Homo sapiens: one gene and its partners. The protein of the gene in region 3 interacts with the protein of the main gene of each other region in a biochemical or structural test. Each region holds a gene or a part of one and is shown on either strand. Other genes may lie near its edges.

Region 1 (7,027 bases), 8.1 Mb from region 3:
AGGGATATATAATCTGCAAATTTCCTCAAACTAATTTGACATAGAAATCTTGTATTGTGAAGTACTCACAGGCTAGAATGCAGTGGAACACAATGGGTTTTATCAAGTAGATTGTTTTTTAATTACGCCAAGTGACATAAACTTTATAGTTTATGTTGTGGAACAGAGGGTGGAAGTCAATCTGAGAAGGATCTATAAGCCAAACACCACTGAGACATTGATTTCTTTAAATGGTCAGTCATTTCTAGATGAGGTATGAGGTAGATTAAAGGAAGTTATTGGGCCATCTTGTTACCAAATCACAAAATCTTTTGAAAAATAAAGGTATCCTAGGTAGCCTTAAAAGTGAGGTAATGAAGGTGTTTCTCTTTGGTAATTCCTTATTCCTCAAATGCCTGCCTCCACACTCCCTGTAACATGCATTCTGGAAATTTTGCTTACAGTTGTTTCTTTCATTTAAGGGTTAGTAAAATGCCTCAGTTTGAGGTAACATAGTAAACTTTATCACCTTTTAGAAGTTTAAGGCATTTATTGGAATCTTTTCACTTGCTAAGAAAAATAGCTGTGCTAGAAATGAGACAAGTTAGTACCAAACTACAATAAAAAGAGAAGAAAGAAGTCAGTGGCAGACAGTGCAACATTCCTAGGTCCAGAACTTGGTTAATCCTGGAGATGGCAGGGCTAAGCAGAAAAAGGGCTGGGATTTGGGTTAGTGGAAGAGGCTAAGCAATGAGAGGTCTACAAGAGGATTCCATGGTGGAAGCGGTGAGAACTGAAAGAGGATATAGGAGAGCATCCAAGACCAAATTCTTAGGTGGAATTAGGAGCTGGGTAATTTTGTTTTTAACAGTAGATAACCTAAGAGATCATTCTCAGGTTCTAGCAAGTAGTTATTTCTTGCTTTTTCATTATTCTACTTAAATAAAAATCTTTGATTTTGACATTGCTGAATGTACTAGGCAGTGGTTCTCAAAATGTGGTCTTCCAAACAGCAATATCAGCATCACCTGGGAATTTATTAGCAAAATTTCAGGTTCTAACCCAAAACTACAGAGTCTGATGATTTGGGAGTAGGGCTCAACAATCTGTTTTTTGTTTTGTTTTTTTTTTTTTTGTTTGTGTGTGTGTGTGTGTGTGTGTGTGTGTGTGTGTGTGTGTAAGCTTTCCAGATGATTCTAATGAATCTAAAGTTTGAAAACCACCCTAGCAGGGTGTGATAAATGGCAGACTACATATGGGTAGTGTCTTTCTAAGTCAATGTGAAATTTAAAAATATTACACTATACATTGGCTCATTGATTCTAAACTTCTCACTGCATTTAGAATTATCTATAGGAATATCCTAAAATATTCATAGTTCAAATAATACTAGAATTTTTTTGCCTTGGACTTTAATCACTAGGTTTGTGAGCATGAGCAAGTTATCTGTAAAATGGAAATAGTATACTTCCTTTGCAAGTTGATTGTGAATATTACAAAAAAAACAGATATAAAACACCTGGGACATTCTAGAAACTAGTGAGGGTTTTTGTTGTTGCAATTAGTATTATTAAATTATAACTATAATTACTACTATGATTATTATATGATAATTACTCACAGGTTAGCCTGTGAGTATGCAGATGATTAGGTGATGTGATCCATATATTAAAAGAGCTGCTTCAAAATGTCAACCTGCCACTTGTCATTGCATTAATCTAGCTTTATTTTGGCTAATACATTCTACTCAGTAAATACTTATAGTATAACTACGAGAATCAATAAATCTATTAAAATATAATTACCAATGGTGGGAGTAGAGGAGAGGTGTCACAGTTTAGGCCTATACCCACCAGCATGTCAGTATTTAGTTAAGACTTTATCAATGATTGATAGAAATGGGGTAAACCATGTATTCCCTGTATATGGCAGGAGTGGACAGCAAAAGTAGGAAGAGTACTTGCAAATGGAAGAAACTAGAAGAAGGAAAGTATTTCTGATAGTGATGATAGGAATTTTCTAAAATTAATATTGTGTCTATTTCATGCTTTTGCTTGGTCTTAGTGTGGCAATTGAATTAAACACCAAAAATATGGTCTAACAAACCATTTTGTAATATTACTTTTATTAGTCAGTTGGACTGACGTTTTTACTGAATTGAATGCTTGCTTGACTGAATTAGCTGGTCATTTTTGCATAACTTTAATATTTGGCACATAGCCCAGTCCCAGATAAATAAACTGTCTTAGCCTAATGGGCGTTTGTTCTGCTTTTTTTTCCCCCTAATCTCTTGGGAAGGAAAATAGAAAATATCCCCTGGTAACTTATTTAGTTCATATCCACTGTTCTTTCTTAGAAGATTATGTTCAGTTTATTGGTCACAGTCTACATACTGGACATATTATACTTGGTTATTATATTTTACTTTATTAATCCAATTTTTTCAGTAGTAAAACTCTGTAAAATTCATTGCATTATGGCAGAAACCAAAAATATAGCAAATATTTAAAGATACCAAAAAGCATTCACAAAATATACTTTTCAATTAGTGTACTTTTAGAATGTCACATTATTTACTTTTGATTTCTAAATGTATTTTAGTATTTAATATTTAGTAGACCAAAAGGCTTCTAAAATATTCTAAGGTTTTCTTTATTGATTTCTTTGTTGCAGATGACAAACTCTGAAGAAATACAAGTGTTTGGGAAATTGGTTTATCGGAAATTTAGATTTGTGCTTTCTATAGTTTTCATACAGTTGGCTCTTATACTAAAGGAGAAATGTCTAGAATGGAGATAGATGGGTGGTTGAAAGTTAAACTTTTGGTAGGATCCTGTTATTTTAGACAATGTGTGTTTGTACTCAGTAGAGGGACTGTACTGTATGGGCAGCGTCATGAGTGTGATGTTTGAAGGTCCCTGGTGGTGGGGTCAGTTGTGGCTGAAATCCCTTTACCTCTGCTTGCCAAGGGTATGTATTCCCTACATAAGACTACAACTGTCCAGAGGGTGCCTTTTTCTACTCCTCCCTATTCGTTAGATGATCAGTTCTCTATATCCATGTTGACTGGACTATTTCTAACTCTTCTCTGTAATAATTAAAGGCTAGGCATTTGTCCAAAAATGAAGGGTTCCATAAAGCAAGTAACTACAGAGCTTGAAAAAGTGATTCTTTGCTAAAGGAAGAAGATCTTTGACAGTGGGCATAAATTAGTTCTCTGGACAAATATGCTGTGTGGCCACAGTGATTAACTAGAACTTTCCAAAGACTTACTTTATGAGATTGTATACTTTACTTAAGAGGCTGACATTGTTCATATGCGTGCTTAAGATCCCGTTCTGGAATTACCTACAAAGCCAGTGAATAACTATATCAAAGTCTCTCATGATATTTTGTAGTTATAACACATCACCTAGGTTGTGCATCTACTTTAGTCATGATTATGAATGGTTTTGGATATTTTTTAAAAAATGAAACTATCCTTAAAGGACAAAGATATAATGACCATGAAGAACACTGGAAATACAGTGCCATAAGTCCAAAGGAAACTACAAAAGAGATTTCCAAGATTATTTCTAAGCAACAAGGGCCCTGCCTCTCAAGGTGACTATTTTGACAAAGATTGGGGAAGGGAAGTATGCTAACATTTACATAGCTTTTCTGAGAGGCACTTTATCATAGTGTTTGTGTATATGAACCTGGGAGCCAGAATGGCTTGGATGGAATGGTGGATCTCCAACTTAACAGGTATGTGACTTTACAATTGCTTAATTTGGGGGTACTTGAGGATTACCATCTATAAAAATGAGGATAATAATGGTAACTAACGCCAGAGTTTTTGTGAAGGTTGTATGTGTTGACTCAAGTTTAGCCTAAAGTTGCCTCCTTACATATTTTAAGTTTAGCCTAAAGGTTTCTCTATGCATAGTGAACTGTAACTTACATGGAGGAGTAAACAGACTGTAACCCACTCTTGTGCCAACCGCTGAGTTTTGGCCAATCAAAGGGGGCCAACTGTTCAAACTGTGTTCAAATAAGGCAAACGCTGAGCTATAATCAGTACAATTGTTTCTGTACCTCACTTTTGTTTTCTGTATGTCACTTTCCTTTTACTGCCTGTAAATCTTTTTCTACCATGCGGCTGTGCTGGAGTTTCTGAGCTTACTCTGGCTTCAAAGGCTGCCCAATTCATGAGTTGTTCTTTGCTCAATTAAACTTTTCAATTTAATTTGGCTAAGGTTTGTCTTTTAACATATGAATTCTTTTGTGAAAAACATTAGGCTAATGTCTGACACATATAAACCATCAGTAAACATTAAATATTGATAATATGATGTGTTTATATAAATTTACATATACTTGTATATAATCTTAATCTTATTATTTATTATTTTCCCCATTTTACAGTTGAGTGTACGCTATGCTTATTCTTAGAGGGATTAATTACCTGGCATGAAGTTCAAACAAACGGTAAGCTGCTGGGACGAGAATAAAATTCAGCTACAGATGATCAGATTACTTCTTGTGTCAACTATGTAAAATATCTGAGACACATCTTGGTGACCTTTAATAACCCTCGTCTACTGGAACCAGTTTGACCCTTGATAGATAGAGACTCAATGAATCAGATCTAGAAATCTGATTTTAATAAAATTTGCCAAGAATCTGTTTCTGATTTTGCTACTGTCATTAGTGCTGTTCGTCAAATATTTCTTATTTTCTGCTTCTGGCCCCACAGTAGAATTGTATTTTCCTGCCCACTTTGAAATTAGACATTGCTGTGTGATTTGCTTTGGTTAATGCAATAGACAAGAAAGTGACTCAAACCACTTCCAGGAGGGACATTAGGAAGCAGTGTGTGATTCATCATGCCCTTTACTCCTGCTGGAGTGACTGCAGAAGTACACTGTCAAGATGGACTCTCTATTCTCTGGACAAGTAATGGACTTGTAGCATGATTCAGAAATATTGCTTATTGTTTTAAGCCACTGAGATGTTACGTTTCTTTTTAGTGTAGAATAACCTACTCGGTCCTGATTGATGCAACTACTGACCAATCCAGAGCACTGAATAACCATTAAGAAATTTTAAAGCTCATTATAAAAAGTGGGAAGTGCTAAACCATGGTTGCACGGAGTTGAATACGCACCTTTTGTGCCCTTCGTTTGTCTGCTCGTTGATTCTGGTGGTAGATGCGACTGAAGTTGGATACAATCACCGGAACAGGTAGAGCAATGACCAAGACCCCACTCAGCGAACAGATAGAACCAAAAATCTTCCCTGCTATGGTTTTTGGCACCATGTCACCATACCTGAGTTAAAGAAAAAATATATATATATTGTTTTAAGTCACAGAAAGACATTTCTACCTGAAACTAAGAATTTTTTCCTTTAAGTCAAATGATTTTTTGGACATATCTATTTCTACTTTGTGACTATAATATATATGGCTTCAGACTTTAATGTCAGAAATTATAAATATCTGAATATAAAAATTACCTTTCAACCTTATAGAAAGTGATTCTAACATTAAGTAATCTTTTTGATTGGAAAATATTTTAAGTCAGATGATGTAATGATAGCTCTTCAATTTTTCCTTTATATGCCATGACACAGTTCTTTACATTTATTTAATACTCAATAATTCTATGCTGAAATTTAGAGTCTGGATAACACAATTTTCCACTTAGTTTTTTCAACATTCAATTGGTTATGAAATTTAAGTAGAAAAAGTAGCACATCACATTCCTTTCACCAGATGTCATCATTTAAAAAATAAACTTTTCAAGGTCCCCATTAACCTTCACTTGTGAAATCTAATGGCCATTTCTCCATAAAAATCTAACTCAATCTCTCATTTGTAGCTTATTAGTTGACTATTCTCTCCTTGAAAGACTCCTTTTATTCTTGGCTTTAGTATTAGAAAATATTCTTATTTTCCCTCCTATCTCATTGGCTACCACTTCTCCATCTTTTTTTCTGCCTCCTTTCCCCTTATCTGATTTCTAAACCTTAGAGTACTTTAGGTCTCAGTCTTCCGTCCTCTTATCTTCTCCATATAAACCCACTTCCTATGTGACTTTGTCCAATCTCATAGCTTAAAACTATCTCTATGCAGCTGATGCTCTTGATTTATATTGACAGCCATGATGTCTCTCCTGAAAATCAGATTCATATCTTGAGTGGTCTGGTCTGATTATTTCTACCCCTGGATGCCTAAGAGCCCATTAAAATTTAAATTAACCAAAATGGAACTCTCATTTCCCTAGCTTCCTCTTCCTCTCTCAAATATTTTCCCCCCACAATTCTGCCACTTATAATTAAACATAATCACCACCATGCAGTTGTTCATACCAAAATTGGAAGAGCCATCGCCTTAATTGCCAGTATCAACGTTTCATCTCTTAGCTGGTCTTGTTGTCTCTGTGCAAACCAAATTGTATCCCATTCAAGTCTCTTTATGACAATAAACCAAACCGTGGTCATTTCTTGCCAGAGCCATAGATATAGCTTCTTACCTGACTCTCCTTTCTACATTTAGCACTTTACAATTCATGCCAACATAGCAGCCAGAACTTTGGTTTTAAAAATGGAGATTGGACTACTGCTATGTTGCTTAAACCCTGACATGGACTTGAAACTGAAATAAATCCAAACTCCTCAGTTTTGCCTCCAAGGGCCTACCTCATTTAGTTCCTGCCTGTATTTTACACCACCTTTCACCAAGCTCACTGGCCTCTGGCCACACTGGCCATCTGGCCTTCTGTTTTGTGTGCAGCCCCCAGATGGTGATTATTCAGGGTGCCATTTAAATGTCTCCATCCAAGTGATTTTCTGGCCACCTAATTCACAGTAGTCTTATTCTCTTTCCTATTCATTCTCTGTAACATTTCCTCATTTGACTGTCTTCAGAGTACTTATTAACAAGTAACATTTTCTTATTTATTGATTTATTTTTTCACTCCTCATCCACCCTACTGACATTAGAATGTAAAATTGCTAAAGCAGGAGCAGTTCTACTTTGTGTTTCGTGAGCATAAGGCCAGCT
Region 2 (7,027 bases), on a different chromosome or scaffold from region 3:
TTAAGATAATTTAACAATATAACCTTGGAAAGTATTTATCGTTTCTTTTCTCCATCACTGAACAATTTTATATCTGGTTCTATCATCACTAATAGAACTTACTGTGATTTCTTTACTTTTTTTTTTTAACTTTCAAGATAAGGCCTTGGTCACTTGCACCCTGGCATTATTTTTAATTTTTATTCTGTGAAAGATACCATGATTATAAGAGACCATCATAACGATACATTCAAGAGCAAAAAAGTAACACAAAGCAAAATTATCACCTTTAAAAAACCAAGGAAATTTTGAATACTTAAGATGGTTTTTTACTTAAAAATATTCTGGATATTTGCTTAAGATGTCAAATACTTTGAATTTTTTTATATTTAACAGTTCGTGGGTATGGCAATAAGGAGCAGGTGTTTGATCTGATTATTTGATGGGCATGCTAACAAGGCATGTGTCATGGGATTGATGAAGCAGCTGCTTAACTTCCTCAGAACATTCTAATGACAACTTTCTAAAGAAGCACCACTTGTTACATAGGCTTCTGTGGCATGTTTTCTATAACTGAATAAATTATCATGACCTACGATTGCATAATAACAGACATATTTATGTACCACTTCCTTAAATCCATCAATCGTTTTAAATCTTCACATCTACCCTCACTCCATGTAACACGTAACACAAAGCCTGCCGCCTAACAATTCCTTTTAGGACCTTTAATGATACATGTAGTGACACTAATTACCTAATCCACTCCTAAACATAATCTGATATTTATATTATGAGCAAAAAAAATAAACAATGCATCAGCGGGCATTCTACAAATGAGAGAATCTCAGAATATCAGAGTTGTTAAGGATCTAAAAGATTAGATAATCCAATCTTCTCATTTGACAGATGGGGACCCCTGAACCCAGAATCTATTCCTGTCACAGGCATATATCTAAATCTTTCTATTCTCTACACATCACATCATTCCTCAAAAGTCCTTCCAAAATGTGTAATAATCTTATTCTCATGTGTTTATTTCTTTCTGAGAACTCCCACATTTTAATTCTTTTTTAAAAATCTAAGATTTATTAGATTTTTTTAAAAAAATGTTGCAGAAAGGCCAGGTGTGGTGGCTCACGCCTGTAATCCCAGCACTTTGGGAGGCTGAGGCGGGCAGATCACGAGGTCAGGAGTTCAAGACCAGTCTGACCAACATGGTGAAACTTTGTGTCTACTAAAAATACAAAAATTATCCAGGTGTGGTGGTTCATGCCTGTAATCCCAGCTACTCAGGAGGCTGAGGCAGGAGAATTGCTTGAACCCAGGAGGCGCAGGTTGCAGTGAGCCAAGATCGCACCATTGCACTCCAGACTGGGTGGGACAGAGCAAGACTCCATCTCAAAAAAAAAAAAAAAAAAAAAAAAAAGTTGCAGAGAAATACTTAACACCAAGGAAAATATTTTTATAAAGTAATTGCTCACTGGCATGCCCCTATGAGAAATTTCTGCAATGTTATATTCCTCATGTTATAGGTAGTGATAATTAGCACACCATATTCCATTAATTTCTTCCTGGACTAAGGTACAATGAAGAAATACTTAGTTTTACTTTAATTGAGTAGAGTTTGTTGCATAGACTACCTATTAATGGAATCAAAATTATGAATTACATATAAATGCCAGCACATCAATGCAAATAGTGAAATTTTCTTCCAAGTAATGCTCTATGGATCAGCCAACAAGGAAGTATTCACACTCACCTGTGTGTGTGTGTGTGTGTATATTCACATACATACACACACACACACACACACAGAAACACAAACTTAGATAAATGACTTATGAGAACAAGCCAAGACCAAAAGTGAATCTAAATCTATTAGAAAAGTTTAAAACCCTACAAAGGAGCGTTTTTTTTAAAAAACTACAGTTGGCACATGATCCGTTCTTCTAACTTTCATGTTTGGCGTCTCCATCCCCTTGGGTGTGGGTTGTAGTTGTAATCAGCTACTGGAAGACAGTAATCAGACCTGGTTTCCATGGACATGATTGCAGAATCATTTCTTGAAGCCTGCCTATAATATGCATATGGCAACTGTGAACCATATTGGGAGGTGGTGGACATATTATTATTGGCTGTGACATTATACTCTTGCCTTCCACATGAGCCCATATAGGCCTTCTGGGTTTGAGGAATATAGGACAGTCTTTCATTCCAATCCTCTGGAGGCCCTGGAAGCACCTTCCTCCGAGCTGCTGAAACCACATTTGCCACAATGGATTCCTGGATGTTTCTGGGTTGGAAAGCATCATCCACTAGACCGAGAGGAGACTTTGCTGCTGCTTCCCAAGGAGTTGGTCTCTTGTTTGCTTTCTCTAGTCCATCGGTTGGTTTACTAGAGTAACTATAAGTAGGCTGGTATACCCAAGGAGATGTAGAAATGGGGGGTGGGACTGATCTTCCAGGAAGAGAAAGGGAGCGCCCACTCTCCTAAAAACAATGAAAATATTAATATATCTCATTCATTTTGGTTTGTGCTGATTGTTACTCCAAAGTATTCCTAGCACCATTACCAAGCACTGCAAAAATAAAAAATAAAAATAAAAATAAATTAACCCCCCAGAATGCTTAGTCTTAAAGCCAGGACATGCTGCCTGTCCCCACCTTTGCAAAAGTGGGCCAAGTGCAAATGGTGGGCTGCCACTTGATCTTACCTTTTGCACTTGGCCCTCCTAGTTGCTCCCCATCTGTGAACGCATAGCCCCAGTTGCTATCATCTTTCTTAGGCATAGTCACTAGGGGCAGGGCGGGGGCTCTGTCATCACTAGGAACCACCTTTCCTTCTCTCTGCCCTCCACATAAGCATATGTGAATTCACATCCCAACCTTATTCCTATCCTGCTTTGCTGGTACAAAATAAACAAAACCTATTGATAACCTCAGAAACAAGCTGTACATTACTGAGCTTTTTACTCTTCCCAAGTGACTTTTAATCTGTTATCTAATGTTGGTCTAGTGAATGAATATAGCAAAAACAAACCAGAGCTTCTTAGATGTAGTTAACATTACTGGTATGATTAACTGCCTGGCCCTTTTCCGCTCAAAATCTATTTATATGGTGACGATCACATGGATTTTTATTTCCTGAGTGGAGTGTATTGCCTTTGTCTCTGAGGGAATTACTCCTGCCTCTTGTTTAATTTGCATTTTGCTTCCTTTCATGTGTATTACATTCCTATTTCTTTGAGAGTTTGTATCCCTGCAACATTCCTCTGTGTATACTTAATATTCAGCTTGACTAATAACACAGGAATATTATTAATTATTATTATATAGAGTTGGGGTCTCATTCTGTTGCCCAGGCTGGAGTGCAGAGCATGATCATGGCTCACTGCAGCCTCAAACTCCTGGGCTCAAGCAATCCTCCTGCCTCAGCCTCCCAAGTAATTGGGACTACAGGTGCACACCACTATGCCTGGCTAAATTTTTAAAAATCTTTTTTACAGACAGGATCTCCCTGTTGCCCAGGCTGGTGGTATTAGACTCCTGGCCTCAAGCCATCCTCCCACCTCAGCCTCCCAAGTTGCTGGGCTTACAGACATGAGCCCCGGTGCCTGGCTACAGCAATATAATTTAATGAAACCTCTTGTGTTCTCATTCTCTCCTTTTACTCCTCTGCATTTCTAGGAATGCTGATGGCTGGCTATCCACATTACATCTTCACACATTCCAATATGCATGAGGCTGTGTGAGATAAGCTCTTGGCAAAAACGCAGAAAGGGTACACCTAGGGGACAGGAGTATCAACTTTGAAAGTATCAAAACATCCTGTTTCCTAACAAAAAACATTACCATGCTTAAAAATGTGCTCTAATTTCATAAACAGTTTCAACAGCTTTTCTCTTAATCAAGTTCTTAACTTTAAAGTGAATATCAATACCTGGATTTAGGCAAAATATCTCAGATTCAAATGTTTCGTTTTTTTTTTATTATTAGGTACACAAAGAAGGTAGATGGTTCATTCCTGGTTTCTATCTGAAGAATAAGGGGTCCAATATAATAAATCTTGATTCTCTCATTTTAATCATTTAAATTTTACTTACAATGGTTGAATCTTAGCAAAAACTTGCTTTCACTAATCTTGTCTTAATTCAGAACCACTCATAATTCTCCTTACTCTATATTTGGGTGAGGTGTGGGGAATCCTGACTTTTAGTCACCTTTAAGGCCTTAGTTTCTATTTCACATTATGTATGTGTTCATTTCATAGACTCATTTAACATAAATTAACATATTGTACACCTAATATTTCCAGGTATTCTTCTATAAGCTGAAGACTTAAAGATGATAAAGTCCTTGCCCTCAATAAGCACACAATCCAGTACTAGTTTTAGCCCCACAGTAGCTGAATTAAGTCAATTACAGAAGACCAGTTTGGGCCAGTGCAGTGGCTCACGCCTGTAATCCCAACTCTTGGGGAGGCTGAGGCAGATGGATCACTTGAGATCAGGAGTTCAAGACCAGCCTGGCCAACATGGTGAAACCCCATCTCTACTAAAAATACAAAAGAATTCTCCAAGGTGTGATGGCATAGGCCTGTAATCCCTGCTACTCAGGAGGCTGAGGCACAAGAATCACTTGAACCCAGGAGGCAGAAGTTGTAGTGAGCTGAGATCACACCACTGCACTCCAGCCTGGGTGACAGAGCAAGACTCTGTCTCAAAAAAAAAAAATAAATAAATAAATAATAAGAAACAAGATCAGTTTAGAGAAGATAGAGAAGAGACTCTTTAACTGTCTTGACAGGAAAAAATAGGAAGTTTTCTAAACTGTGAGAAGTGGTAAGACTCAGTGTGATAAAGAGAAATGTAGCTGTCTGTTGTGGTGTGTGTCTGTATATCACTTTTGTCCTTTCTGTGGAAGAATTAGAACAACAGTGGTCTACAGAGGCCCTGGGAGAGTTTTCAGAGTCCCATGATTTTGCTTTGTGTGGTCTTTGATTATGATAGAGGCAGGAGGCAGACAAATTCTAGGCAGACAGAGGTGGATCCCTGGTGAAACCCCACCTTCAAGCCAAAATAGTCTGAAACTTACAGCCCAAAGTGAGAACTTCTATTCCTGTTTGCCCATTCTCTCCTGATTGGTTCTTTGTGAATAGTGTCTTTTTACCAGTGGAATGTTGCTTTTTCCAAAACTACCTGCGGCCCACCCCACCCACACCGTGTGCCTATTATAAAGACCCCAGACTCAGTCGGTAGAGGGAGAGATGGCCGGACCTTAGAGGAGACGGCCAGACTTCAGAGAGACAGCTGGACTTCGAGGGAGATGGACAGACTACAGAAGAGATGACCTGACTTCAGGGGAAGACAACCTGCCCATCCTCTTCGCTGTCTAGCTCCTCTCTCCACTGAGAGCCATTTTCGTAGCTTAGTAAAATTCTCTGCCCTTCAGTTGTCTGTGTGACCTCATTCTTCCTGGACGCCGGACAAGAGCTTGGGACCCACCGAGTGCAGGTACCCAAAAAGGCCATCACACCGGCCCTTTGCCCTCACGGATGAAGGGCAGCCACCCCACACAATGAGGCAAGAGGCCAACTGAGCTGCTAACAAACCACCGTCTGTGGACGGCAGAACTAAGAGAGCACTGTAACGCTCCCTCTGGGGCTTTGGGGTCGCAAGCACCCCCACCTGGGCACCGCTGTGGGCCACACATGAAGTCTGCTCCTGCTGGCGCCCGGAGTGGCCAGCCAGATCCCACACTCACTCACTCATGTGCTCCCTCCCTCAAGGGGTTGAGCACAGTGAGCTGAGTAAACAGGGCACCCCTGTTGCAAGTCTGGCAAAGAGGCTAAAAAAAATCCTGCATCAATTAGATGTAGCACCTTGAGGGACTGCTTTAGTCAGTTATTTAGGTATTTTAAAAGATAGAAGGCTGAGGGGATGGCAATAGATAAAGGGAGCTAAGACTTTACAGAAATCTCGGTGAGGCCCCTGAACATATATACAGGTGTTTAATTTACTGGCTAATAACTGGAAAAAGAAATAATTATCAATATACTTGGGAGTATTAAGTACTATGTGAAAGCATACATTGCAGTGATAAGACATCCAAAACATTACATGAAAGAGAGGAATTATTTTTTGGTGTTTCTCTTATGCACTGAGTTTGAAAATATTCAGAAGAATTGAAACTTGACAGAATTTATAAAGTTCAAAATATTGTTCAGTGATATCCTATTAACAAAGAGATGAATATGCAGGGAGAAAACTAAAATATTGAGGTATGGTATTGAAAGAGTAAGCCAGGGCTTTCTGAAGGGAAATTAAAACCTAGGATTGAAGCTGAAAGCAAAAATCTCACGCCAAACATGCATATGACAAATGTAACAGCAGTGAGGAAAGAAGAGCAACCAGCTCAATGAGCAAAATGACCATGGCTCTTCTACATTTCCCCAGACTGACGAACATGCCTTCACATTCTTTCAAGTGCTAGTAATAGAGGATAAGATGATAAACCATTTTAGGTTAGAGATCCAACTGGGATATAAATAAATCATTCCATAGGTACAATGTAGTTTCTGTTTGTGTCCAAAATATTGCAAGCCTCTAGCCTCTACTGGCACCCATACTTCTAATTTTAATGTATTTCCCCAAAGCAATTTTCACAGTGTTTTTTGGTGCTGTTTCCTTCTGTCCATCACAGTTTCAAGGCTCAGGCTGTTCTCTGTTTGGCTGGCTGAATGAAGCCATGTGATATACCCTGAGCCAGAAACGACCAAAGGAACCTGAAAGTAACAGAGGTGTTTCTTTTGTTTTGGAGTTTGAATGTCTGACGCTGGAATCCTAGCATAGCATGGATTAGGTCCTGGGTTGTCACTTCCACCATGGGTTATATCATCATCAAGGGAATTTAATATTTTTATATGAGAGCACTTAACTGTAACCAAGATGTTAAATTAGCTTTACCCATCAAATTGCTTCTTTCTGTCTCCCACTACCTTTTAAACTTTATTTAATAAAAAAAAGTTTTCTGCTGCCACTGGAAG
Region 3 (7,027 bases):
CTGCAACTCAGGGCAGGGAACACTTGTCATCCCTGTGCATAACACCCCGTATAGCACTTAGGGTGGAGAGAATCATTCCTGGCTTGTAGACCAAGAAACTGAGGCAGAGAGGAGACAATGAGCCTGAGATTCTGGGGTGCCTCTGGTCACTGTGGAGCTGTGGTGCTGGCTGTCACTGCCCTCTGGGAGTCAGAACCACTGGCCATACTTCCCTTATGATCCCCCAGCCCCACCCTCACGACCCTGGGCTCTGGCACTCACTTGGCCCCTTGACCGTGACCTTGAGCTCCCCGCTGCCGGCACCCTTGGTAAACACCTTGAAGTCAGCCACCTCTTTCACGCGAACACCCTTGGGCTGCAGGCCTCGCCCAGAGGCGCGGCAGGCGTTGGGGTTACAGGCTAGGGGAGGAAGAGAAAGGAGGTTGGGGGTGCTGAGGGGCCTTGGACCACTAGCCCCCACCTCCCTGTGCACAGTCCTTCTAACCCCTCCCAGGCACAGGCAGTGGCCCACGGCCCTGCTCTGGAGCCCTTTGTGTCCCCAGCACAACCGGGGCTGCCGGGCTGGAGCTGGCTACAGGCCCCAGATCAGGCAGGTTACAAGAAAGTTTCCGAGCCAGTGCCACTGGGGAAATGCATGGCAGAGCCTGGGCTGAGAGTGGGCTCAGAGAGACAGGGAAGGCCCCTTTACCCAGCCCAAGGCCATCCATCTAGAGCCCTCTGGGCCTCTCAGGGCACCAAAGCAACCTTAGGATCTAAGTCATGCCACAAAACATCCAGCAATGCCACAGAACAAGGGCTACTTCATAGAACTCGAAGCCTGCCATACAACACAGGCAACGTGTGGACATCAGCCTACCACAGACCGTGGCCAGTGGCAATGAGCCCAGGCCTTGCTATGGAACACAGGCAAAGGAATGGGAATCTCAGCCTGCCACAGAATCCAGAAAAATGGCATGGGACCCACAGGTGCTACGAAACAGGACACGACACATATTCCAGGACTACCATGACCATAGGCGATGGCACTGCCCAAGGGGTACCACGGAACACAGGCAATGGCTCAGAGCCCAGATTTCATCATAGAAATCACCAGGCAAGTGGCAAAGACACTAGACCTGCCACAGAACACAGACAACGGCATGGAACCTGGGGCCTGCCACAGAATGCCAAGGAAGGGGGGGCGATTCCACACGGCCCGGGCCATGCCACACAGCACAGGTGAGGCCAGTCAGCTGCGGCCATGCCTGGCCCCGCCTCCACTGGAGAGCATTAATGTGGCATCACTCTCGGCCTGGTGGACGATGGGCACTGAGTGCAGGGAGAGAACAAGTGGGGCAGTCACCACCTGAGGGCTTGGCATGCAGGCAGTACTCCCTAGATATGCCCCCACCCATACAGCCCCGTCACTTCCGCTCAGCCCTCCCAGGGTGGCACATGTTCTGGGACCCTTCACTGTGGCCTCCCAGCTGTGCTCTTAGGAACTCCAGCCACCTTGGGGGTGGGATGGAGGACTCAGGGAGGGGGTCTCTGCAGACCCCCGCCCCAGCTCTTCCTCCTGCCCCTTGCAAGCCTCTGGCTTTGGTAAGGGCTACCGTGGGGAGCAGTGAAGGGCCCTTACCTTCCGACACATGGACAGGGAAGGGACTGCGGGTGATGGGGGCACCCGCAAAGGCCACATGCACGGTATGTGGCCCCTCCATGGCAGGTCTGTATGTGCAGCGGAACGTGCTGTCACCCTTGTCCTCCAGGGCCACCTCCACTGTGTCCCGCCGGCCCTGTGGGTCCACGATCACCACAGCAACATCGCCAGTGCCGGCCCCTGCCGAAAACAGAGGCTGTCAGCACCACTCTGGACACACACAGCTGCCCCGGTGCCCTCACCCTGAGGCTGCCCACCCTCTGGCTGGCATCCCTGTCCCAGCCTCCCCCCACCCCCACACAGCCCCACATGGTCAGGGGCTTTCCACCTGCACCCCCTGGGGCCCGTCCTACCCGCAGTGTAGATGTCAAAGTAGGTGGGTTTGTTGGCCACATTGCCCACAGGTTCCAGGCCAGGGCCACGGGCTGACACCTTGTTGGCATCTCCCAGGGCCATGCCCACGTTCACCTCAAAGGGACTGCGTTCAATGTTCTGGCCAGCAAAGAGCACGGTCACCTAGGGGTCAGAGGTCAAAGGTTAGCTTCTAGGGGAGAGCAGTCCTGAGAGGGGGCAGAGGGGCACAGCCAGGCCAAGGAGGGTGAGAGGCGGGCAGCTGGGGCTCTGGGCAGGCGCGAGGTACAGGCTGAGAGAGGGGTCCATGCAGCCGGAACCAAGGATGTGAAGAGCAGCGCAGGCAGGGGGGCCTAGAGGGAGATACCTTGTGTAACCCAGCGACCTTGGGCACATAGGAGACAGCATAGGTGCGATCCTTGTCATTGTTGGGAACCACCTTAGCCTATTAGGAAGGAAAAAGATTGGAAGCCTCTCCAATGACCATAGCCCCTCCTGACCCCACAGTGCCTTATGCACCCCAGCCCCACTCAGCCCCCATGGTGACACCTTCCCCAGACTGCACAGCACAGTGTGTGGCTCTGGCAGTCACCTCCGGGCCATTCCTGTTGTTGGCCCCACGCTCTCTGGTTCCAATCCCAAGTGAATCCCTCTGTCCCCAGCGGCCTCTGCATACCTCCTCGGTGTGGCCTTCAGGGTCCTCGATGTAGACCAGCACCTCGCCCACGCCCGCGTCCACCGTCTGCACGGTGAAGTGGGCAGGCTGCAGCACGGTGTTGCCCTGTGGCTCGATGCCTACGGGGCAGGAGCAGAGCCCAGGTTACTCAGGGAGAGCCTACATGTGCCCAGCTGCCCAGGAGGGCCGCCAGGGGCTCACACATACCAGGCCCATAGGCGATGGCTTTCTTGGGGTTCAGCTGCTTGGATCGAACAGGGGCACCAGGTTTGAGCTTGGCCTTGGGGAACTGGGACAGGTAGGTCATAACAGAATGCTCATCCACGTTGGGGTCCACAATCTCCTCAGGGGCAATGACCTGCGATGGAAAGGAGTGATGTCACATGGCGCCCTCTTTTCCCAGCAGCCCCAGTCTCCCCCTGCACCCTGGCCAGGTAAACTTACAGACCCAACCTCTGCCCCTGCCCCCTTTCCCCCCTGCCCCATCTGCGCATGTACCTGGGGCACCCCAAGCCAGTCGTCGGCCTGCTGCATGGCCTCCCGGGCGTTCTCCACGGGCTGGTTGGGGTCCCAGGCCTCCCAGTCGGGGCAGAGACCTGGAGAGGTGATGGAGGGAGACGATGGTGAGGGGCAGCCAGCCGGCCAGGATGCAGGGCATTTGTTCACCCAACACCCTCAGAGGCTGTGGCTTTACACCCCTTCCCACCAGCTCTAGGCCTTGACCAGCCAGGTTCCTGCTGACCCCATCAGCTTCGAGGCCCCTCACCACGTAGGAGCAGGACAGCCCTCTCCACCACCAACAATGAAGCCTTTCTGCCCTGGCTGACGCAGCCTGGCACCAGCCCTGCTGGCCGGCCTCCTGCCTGCCCAGGCCCCAGCTCAGACCTTGAACCCCAAACCCTGGGAGGGTACCCCCTCTCGCTATCTCTTGCCTCATTCAGCTTTCTCAGGGGTGGGCAGAGGAGGTCAGAGTGCCTGTCCCACATATGCCCCTGACCCATCCCCCCTAGAAGGCCTCCTCACAGCTGCCCCGAAGCTCTAGAACTCCAAACGCTTTCCACACCAGTCTTAGGGTATGAGACTCCCTATTCCTTCTAACTGCTCACTTGGGGAAACTGAGGCATTAAAGGGCCTGTGAGGAGAGAATGACTTCTCCTCTGCAGCCCTCAGGAGCCCTGCCTTCCTAACAGGAAGGACGCTGAGGCAGCCCCAGATCACTCCTATGAACGGTGCAGGTGAAGGGGCGCTTGGTTTAGGCCAGAGCTGGAGGAGGGGGACGGCACACCGTTTCGGGGAGGGGGCCGGCTCAAGGCTGGAATCCATGACTGGCTGGAACAGCTGAGCTCACTGCTGGCAGCCACACCAGTTATGGGCCATGGCTCAGCAGCTGGGAATGCTTCCCAGGAGGCTGTGCCCCCGCCTCCCACCCTCTGCTCCCCGGCTGACCCCAGGGTGGAGGAGGATTCTCCCGAGGGGCTGTGACTCCTGGAGAAAACCTATCTTTTCAGGAGATGAGGGGCAGAAAGGGAGCTGTCCATGGGGTACGCTCTAGCCAGTGATGCCTCAGCTTTTTTCATGGCCCCTGAGCTGTCCCCACTTGACCAGGCCAGGACCTACACGGAGAAGGGGCAAGGCTGGCTCACCTGCCACCAGGCAGTGCCCCACTGGCCTCATCCCACATCATCCTGAGCCTCAACCCCTTCTCAAAGTCATCCCAGGGTCTCCCAGAGAAGAGCCTTCTCTGGATCTAACTCCTGGTCTTGCTACAAGTCCTGGTCACCACACTGCCTCTCTCTCAGCTCGGCAGGAATAGTGCCTCGTGGCACAGTAAAAAATTCATGGGGCAGGGAGTCCAGGCCCTGGGCTCTAGGTGGTTCTGCCACAGATAAGCTGTGTGATCTTGGATAAGTCACCAGCCCTCTCTGGGCCATAGTGTCCTTGTCTGTAAAATGAGGGGTTTTAAACCTCTTCCTGCCTCTGCGGAATCTGGCACACTCATCAGGTAGGGCCTGCCACCAGCCAGCGGAGAGCCACAGCTGGAGGAGGACAAACCCTGCAGGGGATCCTGGCCCCCAGGCCCCAGGGTGTGCATTCTGACAACCACACGCCTTGGCAGCCCCAGCTTGTCCCCTCTGTCTTTGGGAGCTAAGGGCTCCATGCTGTGCTCACTGGCCCACTCACCGGGGGCGCAGTTGTCCACCAGGGCGCCCAGAGCTTTGCCGTCCTGCCAGTCACGGTTGAAGTTGGTGATGGGCAGCTGGGGCACCTTGTTCTGGATCCAGCCAAGCAGCCGCTGCTTGGGCGTCTGTTTGCGGGCATCCTCATCATCTTCATCCTCCCACATGGGCATGGAGATGGAGTAGTGCAGGATCAGCGTCCAGATCAGGCCCAGGATCAGCTTCAGGTTCCCATCCACGATGGCCTTGCTGTCTGCAGAGGGGAGGGCACAGACGGGCTCAGGGGCGCCCCACCCTCCACTGCCCCAGAGCACCCTCCCTCACCTGCGCAGCTCCTCGGGCCAGAGCTCTGGGGTCAGGCCTCTAGTCTCTGCCTACCTGACCCTCTCCCTCCTGCGAGGCCCCACTCAGATGCCAAGTTCTTTATGGGGCCCTTCCGGTCAGAAGGCTGCTTCTCTGTGTTCCTGTGGTTCTGGAAGGTACCCTCACCTCAGCTACAGCAAGTGAGTCTGCCTCCTGTCTATGTAATTACCTGGTTTCTTTCTGGCCTTGTGGGATTGTAAGGCTCCCAGGGCAGAGCCTTTTTGTTTTGTTAACAGTTCTACTGAGCTATGATTGACATACAGCAAACTGCACATGCTAGAGAATGAAGTTTGAGAAGCTTTGACACTATGGATATATCACGAAGCCGTCACCACAGATGGAGAATAACGAAGGTACCATCCATCACTCCCCAAAGTTTCCTTGCACACACCCCTTTGTGAGCCCTCCCTCCTGCCGTCCTTGTCCCTCCATCCCAAGCAACAACTGATCTGCTCTCTGTCACGATAGATTACTTTGTATTTCCTAGAGTGTTATATAAATGGAATCACACAGTATATACTCTCTTTTTTTTTGGTCTGGTTTTTTTCACTCTAGACACTAGGTTTTATCTTTCTACAATGAAGGTCTTAAACATAGTAAGGTCTCAATAAATATTGGTTGAATGAATATTTTAAGAACTGAAATTGGAGTGGGGTAGGACAAGTTTCCACTCACACTCTACCCCGAATGCCAGAAAGGGCTTTAGAAACCAAGGGGTTCTGATAGTGGGGCAGGGGTGGGTGGGTGGGGTCCAGTACATTCTCAGTTAAGTCTTGAAAGTCATGTTGTCAAAGGCTGGGGGCCAGAGGGACTCCAGCCTCAGGAGCTGACACACTCCACCCATCACCTCCTTTGAGGAATCCTTTGAGCCAGAACTGGTTCCTCAAGATTTGGGGGGGGGGGGCGCCTAGATCCCCCTTAACAATCAGAAAGAAATATCCAGAAGCCTGGGGTGGCCTAGCATGTAGATAGATCTTTGGAATTCAGCTTACTTGTAAAGGGCAATGAAGTTCTGAAATCTATCAGCTTCCCAAAGCACTGCTTTCAGGAGGCTGGAAGGGGGTGGAAGACAGTCTTGTTTACTGATGTTGCCCGAGAGATGGGAGAGGGTGGAGTGGAGCCTTCCCCTTACACATCTTCTCCCCTCCACCCTTCCCCAGGTCTTGGGGAAAGTGTTAGGAGACCGAGAGCCTGGGAAATCCAGGGCATCCCCTGCCCCACTCCCACCTGCCCCGGGAGGGGTGCCTCAGTCTCCCTGTCCCTCTGGCTGGGGCTCTGGCCGCCTGGGCTCCCCCACCCTGTCACTGATTCATCCTTCCTTCCCCAGCAGCTCCCCAGCCCACCCCCTTCCCCTGGCTCCACTGCAGCACAATGGTTTGGCAGCTTTCAGATTCCATGACACACTCACTCCCTGCCTCCCGGTGCTTTCTCTCAAACACACAGGCTCCAACACTTTCACACAGTCTGGATGCCCCAGTGCCCCCAGCCTCTCACAACCCCGACAGCCTCCAAAGCTCACACGCCCAGAAGTACTTCTTGCAAACTGGAGCCAGACCCCTGGGCAGGAAGCCTTGAGGCTGCAGGGGTTGGGGGGGGCGGTGTGTATATGGGGAGGGTGGTCATTCATATTTGCTGGAGAGGGAAGTTTCTCCCCAGCAACTGGCCCTGGGCCAGACAGCAAGTGGTCCAGGCTTGGGGCAGGAGAAGGGCAGTGGGGCCCCAAGTCCCACTCTGGAAGCAATGACCTCCCTCTCCCTCCTCCCTCTCGGAGGCCAGGCAGAGGAGAGGAGCTCAGCGCCACCAGGGCTCACCAAGCCACTT

What was found. Proteins that work in one complex are often made in the same cells at the same time.
Region 1: the proteins of FLNC (region 3) and KCND2 form a complex in vitro, tested with the Homo sapiens proteins (one study listed by BioGRID).
Region 2: the proteins of FLNC (region 3) and SYNPO2 form a complex in vitro, tested with the Homo sapiens proteins (one study listed by BioGRID).

Annotation. Positions count from the first base shown.
Region 1 is NC_000007.14:120,731,167-120,738,193, reverse strand, and holds part of KCND2 (A-type voltage-gated potassium channel KCND2), read right to left. Parts: intron 5,292-7,027; coding exon 5,129-5,291; intron 1-5,128. UniProt on the Homo sapiens protein: Voltage-gated potassium channel that mediates transmembrane potassium transport in excitable membranes, primarily in the brain. Mediates the major part of the dendritic A-type current I(SA) in brain neurons.
Region 2 is NC_000004.12:119,052,846-119,059,872, reverse strand, and holds part of SYNPO2 (synaptopodin-2), read right to left. Parts: intron 2,473-7,027; coding exon 1,939-2,472; 3' UTR 1-1,938. UniProt on the Homo sapiens protein: Has an actin-binding and actin-bundling activity. Can induce the formation of F-actin networks in an isoform-specific manner.
Region 3 is NC_000007.14:128,833,395-128,840,421, reverse strand, and holds part of FLNC (filamin-C), read right to left. Parts: intron 5,097-7,027; coding exon 4,848-5,096; intron 3,263-4,847; coding exon 3,165-3,262; intron 3,025-3,164; coding exon 2,874-3,024; intron 2,786-2,873; coding exon 2,667-2,785; intron 2,436-2,666; coding exon 2,358-2,435; intron 2,156-2,357; coding exon 1,993-2,155; intron 1,820-1,992; coding exon 1,619-1,819; intron 400-1,618; coding exon 262-399; intron 1-261.